Homo sapiens: one gene and its partners. The protein of the gene in region 3 purifies or fractionates together with the protein of the main gene of each other region. This does not show direct contact. Each region holds a gene or a part of one and is shown on either strand. Other genes may lie near its edges. The genes, in order: INTU, SLC2A12 and AGPAT2.

Region 1 (3,651 bases), on a different chromosome or scaffold from region 3:
CTGCGTGTCACCACATAAGTGCACAAGAAGTGAATATATAACATTTCATATTATAATAATTACAGACAGTTTAAGTTGCTAAACATTCTCTCCTCACTCAGTTTCTTTTACCTCAGAATTCCCTACTCAATGAACGTTTGAAATTATACCTATTTTCTAAAGAGAGTGTTATGGGACAAGTTCCTTGGGACCCAAACTCTGAGAGTGAGATATGCCGGGAGGAAACTTATTAGGAAGTACTCTTGGGAAAAACAGCTGTAGGGGTGTAGTGACTGAGCAGGATTGAGCAGAGGGAGAAGATGAACTGTGCTGCAGCGGCAACAAGTCTCAGCCGATACCACTGTGTACTCTGAAGCTTGGCTGGCCTTTCAGAGTTGTCTTCAATTTAGGCAAGGGGCCAAGCCTTTGTACTCACTTATTTATTAGTCATTAGAAATGGGCTCCTCCCAGGGAGGAATGTAACCTTAGCTGAGTCAACAAGTTTCCGTGTAGGACACGGCTAGGGGAGTGACAAGGCTAGGGGAGCTGTGAGGCATTAGCAGCCACCATTCTCAAGTGTTGGAAAGGAATACCCTGAGCTAAGGTGTAACTGGACAGCACACCACTGCATCCACCAAACACTCTAAAAAATAGTAAACTCTAATTTAAAAATTATATTAAATATACAAAAGGGAGGTTACCTGTGGAGAGATAAAGGGAGACTTTCACATTTTGAAATATTACTTTGTGTGTTTTTCTCTTTCATAATACTAATATGGTCATTTTCCTAAATGTGTAATGAAATATTAAAGAAATACCACAGATATTACCTTTAATATGTAAGATATATCAGAATTACATTTGTTGAGTAAAATACATGTTATAAAATTGTACTTTCTCACTGTAAAACTTCCTGAGTTTAAGTGAACAAGAATAAGAAAGTTTCTTACTTCACTGTGTTATATATTTCTAATTCTTTTTCTGGAAGGTCCTTTTTCAAGTTTCCCAAATGAAATGGATTTGGAAGAGTAGACTTCTTTTTAGTGACCTGAAAAATATAGTTAAGTAGATCAGTTTATATCTAAGAATGGAATCATATAGCAGAAACAATTTAAAAATTAAACATCCTTCTGAGGGAACTACTTACCATTTGCAATGCTTCCTTTAAATATTTTTGATGCTAACTTGTACCTCTTGGCTTATCCATGGCTGACAGGGATCCCAGGGTCATGTCCTGGGAGGGCATGATGGTGTTCCCTGAAAACCTCCTACCAGAGCCATTACCAAATTTGTATGTATGCATACTTGTCTCCCCTCCCTAGACTCTGCACTCCTCAAAGTCAGGGGCTGTGTCTTATTCATCTCTGTATCTCCTTTGTGTAGTATGGCCCTTGGCACTTAGTAGGTATTCAATCAACCTTTGTTGAATGGCTGAATCTTAAAGGTTAACTCAATTTCTCTTAGGAGCTATTCATGGCTTGGTAATTCTTTAATCTGTCCAAATCTTTTTAGACTATTTCCTACCAATTCCATCGACTGTGATAATAGGTATGGTACTGATGTAAGTACTTCCAAATACACCCCACTTAGGGGTCCAAAAGTATTCTATTGTTTGGTATGAGGAGATTGCATCTGGTTATTTATGCCATGCTACTAGCATTTCATAGTTTATTTGTGCTCCTTCTCAGACTCCTCATCTGGTGTCACCTCCATCCACCCAAATGACAAGTTTCAAAAATGTTTTGAAAGACGACAGCATCACTAGAATAAGTACAAAGCCTCCCAGGGTGAATGTTTTGATAATCATTTGGATATTTTATGGTATTTTCATGGGAAAAAATTAGGAAAAATGATCTGAAAAATGAACATCCTCTTTAGAGTCAACTTTTAAATCTTTAAGTGTTACAAAGGTTCAGATTTTAAAATCTATAAAAATAGGATAATACACACAGAGACATACACACACACACACACAGACACACAAATACACACATTTAGGGTTCTGATTCTCTTTGCTGAATATTTCATTGGCTATTTAGTCAGATCAGCCCCCAACAGGCCCCACAGCTTGGATGCTCTCTGTTGTCATTGCAAATAGGGAAGAGATGAACACGGAAATTGAGATTAAAGTTTTCCTATTTCTAAGTACTGTTAAACAGATATGAATGTCAAGGGGTTCTTATCTTATTATTTGATATTTCTTTTTTTTTTTTTTTTTTTTTTTTTGAGACAGAGTCTCACTCTGTCACCCAGGCTGGAGTGACAAATCATGCAGTGGCACAATCTCGGCTCATTGCAACCTCTGCCTCCTGAGTTTAAGCAATTCTTGTGCCTCAGCCTCCCGATGCATCTGGGATCACAGGTGTGCACCAACGTGCCTGGCAATTTTTTTGTAATTTTATTAGAGACTGGGTTTTGCCACATTGGCCAGGCTGGTCTTGAACTCCTGGCCTCTAGCAATCTGCCACACCTGGCCTGATATTTCTTTTTCTTTTTGGTTCAAAATCATTGGTTTGCCAGCAGTGACTGAAATAACCACCATGTCAAATGAAGAATGGTATGCCACTAAAAAAATGTCTTGCAATTATAAAACAAGGACTGGAGAGACAACTTAGCTCCCAGAACATACACACTTGAATAAGCACACACCTTAAGCAAGGTCCCACTTTCTTCTAAACCATCAGAGCCCTGAGATTCTCTTTGCTTCCGTACTGCATCCGGTGTAGTATGGGGGCTAAAGCCATCATCTTCTCCACCTTCACAACCATTGTCAGATCCTCCACTACTACAGGAAGGACTAGGCTTGCGTGTCTTTAAGGAATAGTCACCAAAAAGCGTTCTTCTGCATGTTGGAGAAGTTGCTACTTTGGAAGTACCTTGTAGCCTACTGAGAATAGGCGAAGTGGTCAAGCTATCTGTTTTTTCACGTGATCCAGTAAGGAACCAGTCAGCACAAGACAAACAGGGGACTGGAGAAGATGCTAGCCGTTCATCTATGCGAGAATCTACTCCATCCAGCTGGTGAAGAGTTGTTTTGACTTGATCCACATATACACAGTCTGGTCCAGGACTCCCAATAGCTTTGGATGCGCAACCTCCAGCTTCTAATAGTACACATAGCATATAATGTTTCTATAGGGAAAAAAATTACAAATGTAGGTTTAGCTACCATGAAAATATTTACATAAAATGTGCATGTATAAACTTATAAATATCGAAGACATAGAGGCCTATGGCATAATCATGTGATGATTATTAAAAATTCCTCCGTCATCTTTCCTTTTTGGTTATTATTAATGCTTCTTGATCCCAGTTGAAAACAATCTTACATTGCCTTATCTTGATATACCATCAAACCACTTCTTTTGAGACACAGAATTCCCTAAGATAGCTGTCAAGAGCCTCAGTTACTGGAAGTCCTTTCATCTACAATTGCATATTTATTCTGTTTCTGATTCTATATTATTTTCATGTCTCCCTCTATCTCCCAAAACAAGCCAATGGATAAAACCACTATAGAAAGGGGAACAAAAGACTTTAAAAACCTGCTAAAATATTTTCTTAGACTTTATTAATATTTGTCCATGAGTATTAAATGGATGCAAAAGAAAAGGAATAAGGGGACATGTAACATTTCCTTGAATACTGATATTAGACATACTAATAATTTTA
Region 2 (3,651 bases), on a different chromosome or scaffold from region 3:
AGAAGAAAAGGTCAGGACAAGTTGTCGAGTTGTGGGGAATGGGGAAAGGGAGAGACACCAAGAGCTCAGTATGACAAGAAGCCTGAGGATTTTTTAAAAGTTGATTTATAAGAAACTCCTGGCTGGGTTAGGTGGCTCACACCTGTAATCCCAGCACTTTGGGAGGCAGAAGTGGGAGGACTGCTTGAGCCCAGGAGTCTGAGACCAGCCTGAGCAACATAGTAAGACTCTGTCTCTATTAAAAATACAAAAAAATTAGCTGAGTGTGGTGGCGTGCACCTGTAATCCCAGCTACTTGGGTGGCTGAGGCAGGAGAATTGCTTGAACCTAAAACATCAAGCCTGCAGTGAGCTGTGATTCTGCCACTGCACCCCAGCCTGGGCGACAGAGTAACACTCTGTCTCAAAACAAAACAAAACAAAACAAAACAAAACAAAAACCAAACACACACACACACCCCAAAAAAGAAACTCCTTATGGTGGATTTGACAAGAGAATTTTCAGGATGGGCCTACCTAATATTCAATTGCACTACAGCACTCTTCAAATTCTTAGTAAAAATCTACAAAGAGCTTATATGAATGGGATTCAAGAATATGAAGGAAAGGGGGCTGCTGTCATCTAAGAATGGATTGGAGCAGGGATAAGAGAAAAGACCAGTTGCTGGAAGTGGAGGGCAAGGACCCAGAAAAAGCAGGAAGTTGGTGCAGGAGGGTGATCAGAACCACGAAACTCCTGAAGTGTACTGTGTGTGTTTGGATGGGAGGCTGGTGGGGAGGAAGGAGGCATGTGGATTTAACCATAAGGGGCCTGCAACTATTTTTATTTTAAAATTAAAAGAATGGTGACACCATAAAGCTGTAGAATTTGGAGACATGTAAATGAGGATTTCTAAAACTCCCACTTCTGTCACCACTACCGTCACTTTTAGAAATTTTCTTGATTTCTCAGGCCAGGTGCAGTGGCTCACACGTGCAATCCCAGCACTTTGGGAGGCCGAGATGGGCGGATCACCAGGGCAAGAGATCAAGACCATCTGGCTAACATGGTAAAACCCCGTCTCTAGTAAAAATACAAAAATTAGCAAGGTGTGGTGGCATGTGCCTGTAGTCCCAGCTGCTTGGGAGGCTGAGGCAGAAGAATCGCTTGAACCCGGGAGGCAGAGGTTGCAGTGAGCCGAGATCACACCACTGCACCCTAGCCTGGCGACAGAGCGAGACTCTGTCCCAAAAAAAAAAAAAAAAAAGAAAAGAAATTTTCTTGATGTCTCTAAATTAATATGGTCTCCTTCCCAAGAATTCCTGTTTTCATGGTACTTAGTTCACAAAAGTTTTGTGACATCTTTTGTAAGCTAAGGAAGCTGTGCCTGCTGCCAGCTTCAGATTCCTTTGTCATCCTCTTTCCCTGCTTTGAACTCTGTGCTCCCAGAATTCCGAAGTATTGGAAGCTCCCTGAACGTGCCATTCTCTCTTCTCCAAACATGTTCAAGCTATTTTCCCTCCTTAGAATGCTCCGTAAAACTACTGGCCTCAGTTACACGTGCTCGGCTCAACTTAGCCATCCTGTCTTCCAGGAGTCTCCAGGGACTGGCTGAACTTCCCCCTTTGCTATCATAGATATTACACATAATACATGTATAATATCAAGCCATCTCCTCCATCAAAGGATTCCTGATCCCTCATCGCTCTCCACTAATTGGCAGTAAGCACCTGCACTGTGAGGATGCCTTTCGTTTCTCACCAGACTCCAGGGTCTGGCATCATATCTGATTCCTACTATCCACTCAGTATTTGCTGAATGGTTATCTTGCAGTTAGTTCGATTTTTATTTTTTTGATAAGTTGGTAAAACCTACAGACAAGAATAAAGGCCTGGGCACAGTGGCTTCACGCCTGTAATCCCAACACTTTGGGAGGCCGAGGTGGGTGGATCACTTGAGGTCAGGAGTTTGAGACCAGCCTGGCCAACATGATGAAACCCCATCTCTACTAAAAATACAAAAATTAGCAGGATGTGGTGGCAGGCATCTGTAATCCCAGCTACTTGGGAGGCTGAGGCAGGAGAATCGCTTGAACCCAGGAGGTGAAGGTTGCAGTGAGCCGAGATAGCGCCACTACACTCCAGCCTGGACAACAAGAGTGAAACTCCGTCTAAAAAAAAAAAAAAAAAAAAAGAATAATGTCTTAGATACATTTTTTTTTAACCCTGAAGCATCCAGCACTGTGCCTCTCATGTAGTAGGTGCCCAATATGTATTTGCAGAAGTAAAATGCTCTTTAGTTCAGCAATCGCTTCTTTACTCATTGACTCCTTCAACAATTAAGCATGAACTATGTGCCAGCACTGTCTGGCAGGCAAGTTTCATTGACGGCTATTGCAATCAGCCTTCATGGTTGCTGGCAGCATCGTGTTGAGATGTTTCCTAGGTTACATCTGGATTTAATGGCACTAGAAGGTGGTACTTGTGCCACATGGATGTGATCCCTCATGTGTAGGCTGGAAATACAGAGAAAAAGGCATGATTCCTACCTATTATGAATTGCACAGAACTTTCCAAGCACTGTCAGTCAGCTCAGAGCTCTGATAGGTGCATGAAATATATATTTTATCGAGAAACTTATAATCTTATAGAAAAATACAAGTTACATAAAAAGTTAGGGAATTAACTAAAACAGAATGCAAACAAGTCCTGAAATGAGTGTAACTGGAATCCAAATTCACAGATTGGAAAGTAGAAGCATTATTGCTGGCTGGTAATATGGGTCAAGAGAGCAAACCTGGACTGGATTTAGGAAAGTAAGGTTCAGATCACTGTGCTGTCCTCTAATATCTGTGCTACCCAAGACAAGTCCCTTTGCTTCTTTCCAGGAGGAACCTGGGCTTGAAGGTGAAGAACAGTGTGGAATCAGAGTCCTAATTAGTTACCGGCTAGACTTTGATAAGTCCCTTAAGGTTTGTTTCTCTCTGTGTCCTCATTCACAAGATAAAGATAATAATATTACCTCCTTCATAGAGTTGTAAGAATGAATGAGACAGAAGAGACCCTGGTACCTGGTAGTAAATGATTGGTAAATGTTAGCTGTTGTTCTTAGCCTCAGTTTCCTTATCTGTGAACTGGGGTGCCTCATGGGGTTGCTGTAAAGATCTGAAGGGATTACAGTAGTAGAACCACTTGGCCCACAAGAATCATTTAACAAAAGCTCCTTTAATCTGAATCTAGAAGGTAAAATCTTCATAATACGGAGGTAAAGCTTTGAAACAGTCTTTTACTGATAGCAACAGAAATAAAATAATACCTTATTTCCAGCATAACAATTGTGTCTTTCATAAATTCTTGAATTCCTTTGCTTTCAAAATTGGCAGTACCTACATAATTGGGCTTGCAGCATGAAAAATTCCTCCTGTGATTTTGTCTGAAGGTTTCTGCAGCTTAGTTTCCCAATATAAATAAAACATTTCATTAGTGTGAGGATGCTCTCTCACCACACAAATTGACCCTAATTACAACTTCCATTTCCCCTGTTCTTGAAAAACTTTGCACATCTGAAGCTGAGCTGTCATGGTTTTTTAATTAGTATTACTCATAACTCCCAACTCTAACTTCCATAAAGTGTGGAAATGTGTGTGGGAGCAAGACATTTTGTATAAAATAA
Region 3 (3,651 bases):
CCCATCATGTCCAGGATGCTCTGGTGGTTGGAGACGATGACACAGGGACGGGCCTCCTGCAGCCTGCGCGGGTCCCGCACCTCGAAGCGGAGCCCGTAAAAGTACTTGAAGCTTCGCACGAACCAGCCGATGATGCTGCAGGGGAGGCCACCATGAACACGGGTCCCACAGATCCCGCAGCCGAGGCTGGGGCGCGAAGGCCTGGGGGTGGGGTGTGGAGGAGGCTGGGGAGGGGCCCTCCTGGCACGGGGCAGGAGACCGGGAGACACAGGGGAGGGAGCCCCTGAAGCGGACAGAGTCCCGGGCCCGGCTCACCCACCTGGACGGCTGCCCTGCCTCCGTCTCCCCAGCAACAGAGGAAAACCCAGAGCCTCTGGAACTCGGATGCTAGGAGCATGGGAAGGCGCCCACTTCCAAATCCACATCCAGGGCCCACCCAGCCCTCATCCACCCCACAGGGGACCCAGCCGGAAAGGAACTGGCACTGGCTCTCACGTCCGCTATGAAGGACCCACGTCGGGGAGAGCAGCCTCTGCACCCCAGCAGAGGAAATGGGGCCCCACACACCCTGGGGAAGGTCACTGGCCCCTCAAGGCAGGGCCACATCAGGAAGAAAGTGTCGGCGCCAGTGGAGACCTCTGAAACGACCTCCGAAAGGTTCTTCCAGAAAAGAGCCGAGACCGAGACCCTCTCTCACCCCTACCCTACAGAATCAGGCCGGTTCCCTTTCCCCGTGAAGAGGCGGCGAGGGGCTCGGGGCTTGTCTGAGGTCACACCAGGAGCAGCAGCAGAGCCAGGGTCTGGGCCACCTGAGCCCTGGCCACAGCAGCCCCCACTCTGGCAGGGGCCCAGCCCACTGGGGGCTGCCCTTGGAGCACCTGCAAATGTGAGGTGGCCTTGTCCAAGCAGCCCGTCATGGTTGGGACCAGGGATGTCCAAGGGGTACCCGAAGACTCTGACCAGCTCCGAGCGTCCCAACCTCTGCCCTGCTGTGCTGCCAGGAAGCTCTGGGCACACCCCAGATAGGGCACCCCATCACAGGGCAGCCGGCGGGGATGGAGCCAGGAGGACGGAGCTCCACTCCGAAGCTCCAGCAGGGGTGGATGGCCGGGGCAAGGCTGTGCCAGCGCTGACTGGGGGGCTGCCAGTGCTGCTCCCCTCTCCATGCAGACTAGTGCCCCCCACCATTTGATCCCCCAGCAGTCCTAAGGGCCCCACACTTTCTACAGATGAGTCTGAGTAACTGCCCCAGGCCACAGAGCAGAGATTCAAAGCCGGGGCCTTCTCTCAAAGCCATACTGGTGGGGATTTTTGTTGTTTTAACAGGGTCTTGCTCTGTCACCCAGGCTCCCCTTGCTCTGTCTTGCTCTGTGACACAATGTGTCACATTGTGCAGTGTCACAATCTGGGCTCACTCCAGCCTCCACCTCCTGGGCTCCTCCCACCTCAGGCTCCTGACTAGCTGGGACCACAGACGTGAGCCACCACACCTCGCTAGTTTTTGTATTTTTGGTACAGATGGGCTTTCACCATCTCTGGCCAGGCTGGTCTCGAACTCCTAGGCTCAAACAACCTGCCGACCTCGGCCTCCCAAAGTGCTGGGCTTACAGGCCTGAGCCAACTCGCCCGGCCTTTAAAAAAAAATTGTGGTAAAATACACGTAACATAAAATGTATCTCCTTGGCCTTTTCCGGGTGCACAGTTCATGGGCGCTGGGCACATTCGGTGTCTAGCAGCCATCTCCTCCCTCTATCTCCAGAACTCTCCACCTTCTCTGGCTGACGTCTGTTCCCATGCGACACAAACCCCTGTCCCCTCCCCAGCCCTGGCACTCTGCCCTTCCATGTGTGAGCCCAGGCCTGCGGCAGCACCACCTCAGGCTGATGGGGCAATGCTCATGACCCCCTGTTGCAGATGGGGAAACTGAGTCAAGGGGGGCCTAATGGTTAATTCTGGTGATGAGTCCAGCCGTCCGTCCCTGGACTTGGAAGCCTGGGGCCTCCTCAGATCTGCCTTCCTCAGCCAACTCTAGATATCTCCTCTCCAGGCCGCGCCGGCCACCGTCCCCTCCCACCCAGAAGGCACACCCGGGCTGGTAGCACCCGCACACTCAGGGGAACTGCAGGGCTGTTTTGCCTCCACACTCATTTGCGCAATCCAGCTTCCCGGACCCCTGTGACGCTCCAAGAAGACGAGGAGGCAAAAGCCGGCAGTTCACCAACAGGAAACACAGAACTGTCTGGTGCTAGCAAGACGGCCGTGTCGCCAATCAAAGAAGCGCAAATGGAAACAAGAGACTGTCCTCATCCTTCCCCCTGGCACAGATTAAAACGCCTGATAACAGGAGGTGCCAGCCAGGGTGTTGGGAACAGGCCCAGCGGCTGGCAGGAGTGAGGAGTCGCACAGACAAGATACTTCTGTGGAGGGCAGGTTGGCAGGCCCGGCCAGAGCCCTGAGGAAACCTGGCCCCTCCCCTCTCAGAATCTTCCAGGAATTCGCCCGACGGCTGGAGTGAGAAGCCTGTGGTGCTGAAGTGTGCAGTGAATTAGGAAAACCTGAAAATGCTTAAATAGCCACCAGTAGAAAGAGGGAAAGTAAATTAGGGTCCATTTCACAGACAGCTGGGGCGCGGGGAAAGAACAGGACAGGTCCACACTCATCTCCTGTGAAGGACATGTGTATGATTTCTAGCAGCAGCCAAGACACACCTGCAATTCCAAAGCTAGCTGCCTGCAGGAGGCTCGGGCCACATCTGAAAGGGACATTGGTTCCCTCTGGTAGTGACATTGGCCAGTTCCATCTTTTATTTACTTTTTTATTTTTGAGACAGGGTCTCACTCTGTCACCCAGACTGGAGTGCAGTGGTGTGATCTCAGCTCACTGCAACCTCTGCCTCCCGGGTTCAAGCAATTCTCCTGCCTCAGCCTCCTGAGTAGCTGGGATTACAGGTGCCTGCCACCAGGCCTGGCTAGTTTTTGTATTTTTAGTAGAGACGGGGTTTCACCATGTTGGCCAGGCTGGTCTCGAACTCCTGACCTCAGGTGATCCTCCCACCTCGGCCTCCCAAAGTGCTGGGATTACAGGTGTGAGCCACCGCGCCCGGCCAGCTAGTTTCTTAGTGTTAACAACTGCATCTTGGTGATGTAAGATGTTAACAAGGGAGGAAACTGGTGAGGGCCACATGGGGTCCCCCGTAATATCTTTGCAACTTCTCTGTAAATCTGAAATTATTAAAAAATAAGATCTTCATTTATTTTTTATTTTTTTTGAGACGGAGTCTTGCTGTCACCTAGGCTGGAGTGCAGTGGCGAGATCTCAGCTCACTGCCATTTCCACCTCCCGGCAAGCGATTCTCCTGCCTCAGCCTAGCAAGTAGTTGGGACTACTGGTGTGCGCCACCACACCCGGCTAATTTTTGTATTTTTAGTAGAGACGGGGTTTCACCATGTCGGCCAGGCTGGTCTCAAACTCCTGACCTCATGATCCGCCCGCCTCGGCCTCCCAAAGTGCTGGGATGACAGGAAGGAGCCAGCGCGCCGAGCCCTCCTCTGTTTTGATTGTGGTATAACACGCACCACCTAAACAATATAATTGTACCCATTTCTCAGCACACGGTTCCGTGGCACTCGGCGCATTCACTGCCGTGTGGCC

Evidence for each region.
Region 1: the proteins of AGPAT2 (region 3) and INTU purify together in Homo sapiens (affinity purification with mass spectrometry, with the first as the bait; one large-scale study listed by BioGRID). This does not show direct contact.
Region 2: the proteins of AGPAT2 (region 3) and SLC2A12 purify together in Homo sapiens (co-immunoprecipitation; one large-scale study listed by IntAct). This does not show direct contact.

What each region holds. Positions count from the first base shown.
Region 1 is NC_000004.12:127,705,947-127,709,597, reverse strand, and holds part of INTU (protein inturned), read right to left. Parts: intron 3,112-3,651; coding exon 2,629-3,111; intron 1,028-2,628; coding exon 930-1,027; intron 1-929. UniProt on the Homo sapiens protein: Plays a key role in ciliogenesis and embryonic development.
Region 2 is NC_000006.12:134,042,563-134,046,213, forward strand, and holds part of SLC2A12 (solute carrier family 2, facilitated glucose transporter member 12), read right to left. Parts: intron 1-3,651. UniProt on the Homo sapiens protein: Insulin-independent facilitative glucose transporter.
Region 3 is NC_000009.12:136,677,422-136,681,072, forward strand, and holds part of AGPAT2 (1-acyl-sn-glycerol-3-phosphate acyltransferase beta), read right to left. Parts: intron 136-3,651; coding exon 2-135; intron 1-1. UniProt on the Homo sapiens protein: Converts 1-acyl-sn-glycerol-3-phosphate (lysophosphatidic acid or LPA) into 1,2-diacyl-sn-glycerol-3-phosphate (phosphatidic acid or PA) by incorporating an acyl moiety at the sn-2 position of the glycerol backbone.